Linked DNA regions of Homo sapiens: region 2 is reported to be linked to region 1. Evidence: microRNA targets listed by miRTarBase, many of them from high-throughput screens and not tested one by one. Region 1 holds a microRNA gene; the other region holds the end of a gene's coding sequence.

The links. The annotated mature microRNA hsa-miR-8082 reads UGAUGGAGCUGGGAAUACUCUG and lies in region 1 at 1,304-1,325, opposite strand. An mRNA with a match to its seed (bases 2 to 7 or 8) in the 3' UTR can be bound and repressed. Matches are read on the target gene's strand: a 7mer-m8 pairs with bases 2 to 8, a 7mer-A1 pairs with bases 2 to 7 and ends in A, and an 8mer does both.
Region 2: the mRNA of MAGT1 is a reported target of hsa-miR-8082. Seed matches in the 3' UTR shown: 7mer-m8 at 866-872.

What each region holds. Positions count from the first base shown.
Region 1 is chr4:113,150,617-113,153,616 of GRCh38, reverse strand. It overlaps MIR8082 (microRNA 8082), which reads right to left and starts at 1,335; the gene lies at 1,255-1,335. All of the region lies in intron 1 of ANK2 (ankyrin 2), which reads right to left.
Region 2 is chrX:77,826,598-77,829,597 of GRCh38, forward strand. MAGT1 (magnesium transporter 1) reads right to left here. Exons shown (of 10, transcript NM_001367916.1): 10 at 1-2,638. The coding sequence ends at 2,623. Among named protein-coding and RNA genes, the nearest start is that of ATRX, 42 kb to the left of the region's middle.

The DNA of each region.
Region 1 (3,000 bases):
TGTAAGAATGCATAAAAAGCTGAATATCATAAGCCATTTTTTAAAAGAAATGATTATGTATTATAGATGGTATAGACAAATCTGTGAAATATATACCTTACTAATATAAAATTGTTAAATGTCTTTTATTCCTGAAAAATACTCTTTTTCTTTTGTAACTCTGGGGAAAAGTTCATATGTAACAACCAGTGGTTTTCAAAAAGGAAAGATTTTCACAAATTTTTCTATGTACTTCTGTTTTACTAGGTATCTTAGAAGATGCTTTCTAATATCCTTCAGAAAGCCAATAATCTAGAAAGGTATGACACAAAAGTAGCAAATATAAAGGTACTTCAGCTCTAGTTCTAATATATTATTTGTGACTTGTGAGAGATCCAATTTAAGTACACAATGTGTTTATTTAATAGAGTTGCTGTACTAGAATATGGAAATTCCTACAGTATCAAACAGAATCTATGATTTACTTCAAAGCCCCCTTTTGGAACTCATTGATGACTGAGGAAGGTAAAGAGTACAGAAAAAAAAAAAGACTGAAATTTAAATAAACTGTATGTCAGCAACACTTAAACTCATCAAAAACACAGTTTCAATTTATAATCTCTACTATTACACAGCTGGCTTTCACATAGCTTTAAGAAACAATTCATTAGCTCAAAGCCACCATTGAAATTATTATACTTCTGTCAATCATTGTAAGATTTTTACTATTTTTTTTTGAGACAGCATCTTGCCCTGTCACCTAGGCTGGAGTGCAGTGGTACAATCAAGGCTCACTGTACCCTCAATTTCCTGGCCTGAAGAGTTCCTCCCAGCTCAGCCTCCCAAATAGCTGGGTCCACAGGTGCACACCATCAAACTTAAAAAAAAATTAATATAGAGACAGAATCTCCCTGTGTTGCCCAGGTTGATCTCAAACTCCTGGGCACAAGTGATCCTCCTGCCTCAGCCTCCCAAATTGCTGGAATTACACGTATACTTCTTATAAGGAAGTATTAAAGAAAGGCACAAAAAAGTTTTACTATAGTCACATAAGCCCACACAAATATGATATGAAGGTCAGCTTTGAAAAATCAAACACGTAAAATTTTGACAATCAAATGTGATATAATATGCCTAAGATTTCACAGAGAAACCCTTAAATAAAAATAAAGAATTCAGGAAACAAGTCAATCTATCTTGTGGCATAATAAGTTTTGATTAAAGGGGCATAAAATCCAAAACAGCAACTAAAAGTGAGTAAGAGGCACAGCAGATGTCTGTGTGGGAAGGAAGCAAAATACAGCTGAAAAGAGGACTCTCTCCCCAGAGTATTCCCAGCTCCATCATCACACAGGCGACCTTGAAAAAGCCACTATAGGGACAGTGGAACTAATCTTATTAAATATAGCAGAAGAGATATTATTCAAAAGTTATTACATAGTTCAAGTAAATACAAATACTTGGTTTGGATATACCTCATTATAAAAAAAATAAATAGATAATGCTTAACATTACAATGTAATCTTTCTTTCCTTCTTTTTTCTTTTTTTTTTTTTTTCTTTTTTTTTTTTTGAGACAGAGACTTGCTCTGTCACCCAGGCTGGAGTGCAGTGGTGTAATCTTGGCTCACTGCAATCTCCACCTCCTAGGCTCAAGTGATCCTCCCACCTCAGCCCCCCAGTAGCTGGAATTACAGATGTGTGCCAGCACACCTAGTAATTTTTTTTTTTTTTTTTGTAGAGATGGGGTTTCACTATGTTTCCCAGGGGGTCTTGAACTCCTGGGCTTAAGTGATCCTCCCACCTCAGCCTCCCAAAGTGCTGAGATTACAGGTGTGAGCCATGGTGCCCAGCCTACCTTCACCAAATTTCTTTAAAATGTAACCATTGCATTTTATGTACAACTTGATATAGAGAATAACAATTCAAGAAAATGTCTACTACTTTCTATAGTAAATATGTTTTATACATATATTTTATACCAATGCTGTGGTTTCCATATTTGACTCTGCAAACCTCAAGTTGAAATGTGATCCCCAATATTGGAGGCAGAGCCTAATAAAAGGTGTTTAGATCATGAGGGTGGACCCTCATGAATGGCTTAGTGCCATTCTGGTGATAAGGAGTGAGTTTTTGCTGTATTAGTTCCTATGAGAGTTCCCCTGATGGCTGATCATTAACAAGAGCCTGGCACCTCCCCCTGGTTTCTGTACACACCAGCTCTCCTACCCTTTCCTCCGTGAGTGGAAGCTTCCTGAAGCCCTCACCAAAAGCAGATGCTGGTGCAATGCTTCTTGTACAGCTTGCAGAACTGTGATCCAAATAAACCTCTTTTCTTTATAAATTACCCAGCTTCGGGTATTCTTTTGTAGCTACACAAATGAACTACGACAACAAGTAATGTGTGCAATTGCAGTAAGGGTACATTCCTTTTTTGAGCAGAAGGTTATAATTAAAACTTCTTAGTTACCAACGTCTTTACTGTTTTTAGAAGTGTTTTTTTGCTTCCATCACCTTTTCAATGTTGGCGGCCTCTGGTTTCATCTGGGGGCATGTCACCTGTAGTGGGAAAATTCCCATAAATAGATTTGCTACTTTGGGTGATTTCCTAGTCATTAATTCATTCATTTTTTTCACAAATATTTACTAAGTACCTATTAGCTGGTAGGAACTTCAAAGAAAATAGAGCTTATGATATGCAGACTACAACCTAATTGATTCTCCTAAAACAGCCTTTGGTCAATGGCCTTTCACTAGTATATAGTTCAAATTCTAAATCTTGACTTATGAATCTCTTGATAATCTTAGCCTATGTGCCTCATCTAAATTTTGGGGGTTCCACAAATGTCCAGTAGAAATGGTATTATAGCCATTGCTTTCCAGTCTTTCTAATGAGTCCAATACTGAGTGTGTGAACTTCCCATAATGCTTCAGGACTTAACTTTTCTGCCACCCTCTGAGGCTGAGTTGTCATCCTGAAGTACTCTATAATCCCCTGTGCTTTCTCAGGACATGGGAACAC
Region 2 (3,000 bases), not on the chromosome of region 1:
CACATTTTAGCCAGAATGCTGCCTTTCTCCTTACAGAAGAATGTGCTCTTAAAGGGAGAAAAAGCAAATACAAAAAATTGTCATTCTGTCAATGTTCATGACAAATTATCTGGAACTATACAGATTACATGGCAGTAGTATTCCCGTGGTCAATCTGTACAAATCAGGGCATCTTCATACAAGTCTCATAAGAACCACAGCATAGATTTGGCCTGAGACAAGTACAAGAATAGCAGGTAAGGAATTCAGAATCTCACAATTTACAAGTGAGTAATTAACAAAAACTGGCTGCTCCATTAAAAAGTAAAAGGTCAACCATATCCCCTCATCCATGAAATCTAGTAACGAAAAACAAAAAACCCACATAAAATATTTCTTCTGAGGCTACTATATCCATCTCTTTCTGCAAACCACATGGCAGGGTTATTAGAAGGTAAATGGCAGGTGGCAGTCATAGTATCTTTTTAATGTAATACTTGTAAGATTTCCTTAAAATTATTTTTTCACAATTACAATTATCCTATTTCCACAATAGTGGCATTTCAGGTTACTCTTCATAACTATGGGGGAGGTTATAGTTAGATATAATGATAACCATGAAAACATTCTTCACAGAAATTTGGTTAGCACATATGGTTATTTCTACTGACAGAAACCAAAAGACAAAATAAAAAAAATCCCTTCAAATTGGTACTTTGTTTCTCCACCTAAAGGAAGAGAATAAAGACTAAAATAACAGCAAAACATAGAACAGCTTTCGAGAAACGCTTAATTTCTATATACAGGCATCAGCTCAATATTTTATGATTTTTCTTTCCCATTCTAAGGGAGTCCTTTTCTTTCTTACTTTTTTTTTTTTTTTTGAGATGGAGTCTCGCTCTGTTGCCAGGCTGGAGTGCAGTGGTGTGATCTTGGCTCACTGAAACCTCCATCTCCTGAGTTCAAGTGATTCTCGTGCCTCAGCCTCCTGTGTAGCTGGGATTACAGGCTCCTGCCACCACACCCAGCTAATTTTTATATTTTTAGTAGAGACGGGGTTTCACCATGTTGGCCAGGATGGTCTCGAACTCCTGACCTCGTGATCTGCCTGCCTTGGCCTCCCAAAGTGCTGAGATTACAGGCGTAAGTCACTGCGCCTGGCCAGGGAGTCCTTTTCTAACTGAGCCTATTTTTCTCTTAGGTACAAATGGAATAAGTGACAAACTCTAATTTGTAGAAACATTTTAGGCCATGTATAAGTTACACTGATTTTAGCACTAAGCTATATTTTTATCACAGATGGGTCACCTTAAAAGAAAACTAAGGAGATGGAATGAATCTGAAATCTTTCTAAATACAAGGTAGTTAACACCATACTCAAGCAGAAATTATAATCCTGTATTTAGAGATACTTTTTTTTGAGACAGAGTCTCACTCTATCACTCAGGCTGGAGCGCAGTAGCGTGATCTCGGCTCACTGCAATCTCCGCCTCCCAGGTATTAAGCAAGTCTCGTGCCTCAGCCTCCCAAGTAGCTAGGATTATAGGCATGAGCCACCAAGCCCAGCTAATTTTCATATTTTTAGTAGAGACGGGGTTTTGCCTTGTTGGCCAGGCTGGTCTCTAACTCCTGGCCTCAAGCAATCCACCTGCCTCGGACTCCCAATAGATGTCTTTTCATGTTCACAGCTATCGAGAAGCATAGACATTGCTGGTGTGGTAGCTCACACATGTCATCCTCGCACTTTGGGAGACTGAGGCGGGCGGATCACTTGAGCCCAGGAGTTCAAGACCAGCCTGGACAACTTGGCGAAACCCTGTCTCTACTAAAAACACAAAAATTAGCCTGGCATGGCGGTGCACACCTGTAAATCCCAGCTACTTGGGAAGCTGTGACAGGAGAATCGCTTAAACCTGGGAGGCAGAGTTTGCAGTCAGCCGAGCTCACGCCACTGCACTCCAGCCTGTGTGACACAGCGAGACCGTCTCAAAAAAACAACAAAACAAAAACAATCATAGACAGCACTGTATTTCAGTAGGAAATATGCAAGGAGGAGGAGAAACAACTGTCTTGCTGAGGGCTAGACGTGTGCTCTGAAGAATGGTGTTCCATTTTCAGAAGACCACATGACACACATAATTTCTCTACTCAAAAGGAAAGATGCGTAAAGTATACACATCCACACAAAGATGAAGAAGCTAAGAATGAATTCCTAATGTAGTTATCTGTAACAGGCATATGTGGGAACACCTGGTCAGGACTTACTTTCCCCATCTTTGGATAAGGCAATATAAAATCAGATGACCAAGTTAACTAAAGTAGTTTTGAGCTTTGTTCTAACTAAAACAAAGTAGTAGTTTTACAATTTTTATAATATACTTAATTGTACTAAATTAAATGTTCCATAAAGTTCACTGGGAAGAGAAGGTTAAGAGGATAATTATTTTCAAATACCTCAGATTTTGACAGAGGATTGCTTGTTAAGGCACTACACATCTTCTTTGGTTAAATGATTAACTATTTAAATCACTTGAAAAAAAGAGGTAATACAAAATATACAAGTTGCATTCTTCTTTTCAAACACACACGATTTTCGTTTTTCAATTTCCAGTACTCCAGTGTCTATATATCTCTGGGACCTTTTTAACTCATCAGAAAGCTGAAACAAAAATATATTCCAATCTATTAGTCTCTGAAAGAAAAGTAGGATTTACTTTTAATCAATAAGCAGTATGTTGGTTTTAACAGATAAAAGAGCATTTTGGTACGTACATGATAATCTTTGGGTATCAATAACAAAAAGTGAGAAACACTGAGAGACCCGTTAGTCTTATGACAAAAGGAAATAGAATAACCTCAAGTTAAAATATCTCCTGAATAGAGACACTAATTAATAATTTTATTTTTTCATTTTTTTAGAGATGGGGTCTCACTGTGTTGCCCAGTCTGGTCTGGGACTCCCACGCTCAAGTGATCATTCTGTCTTAGCCTTCTGAGTAGCTGGGACTACAGGCACATGAC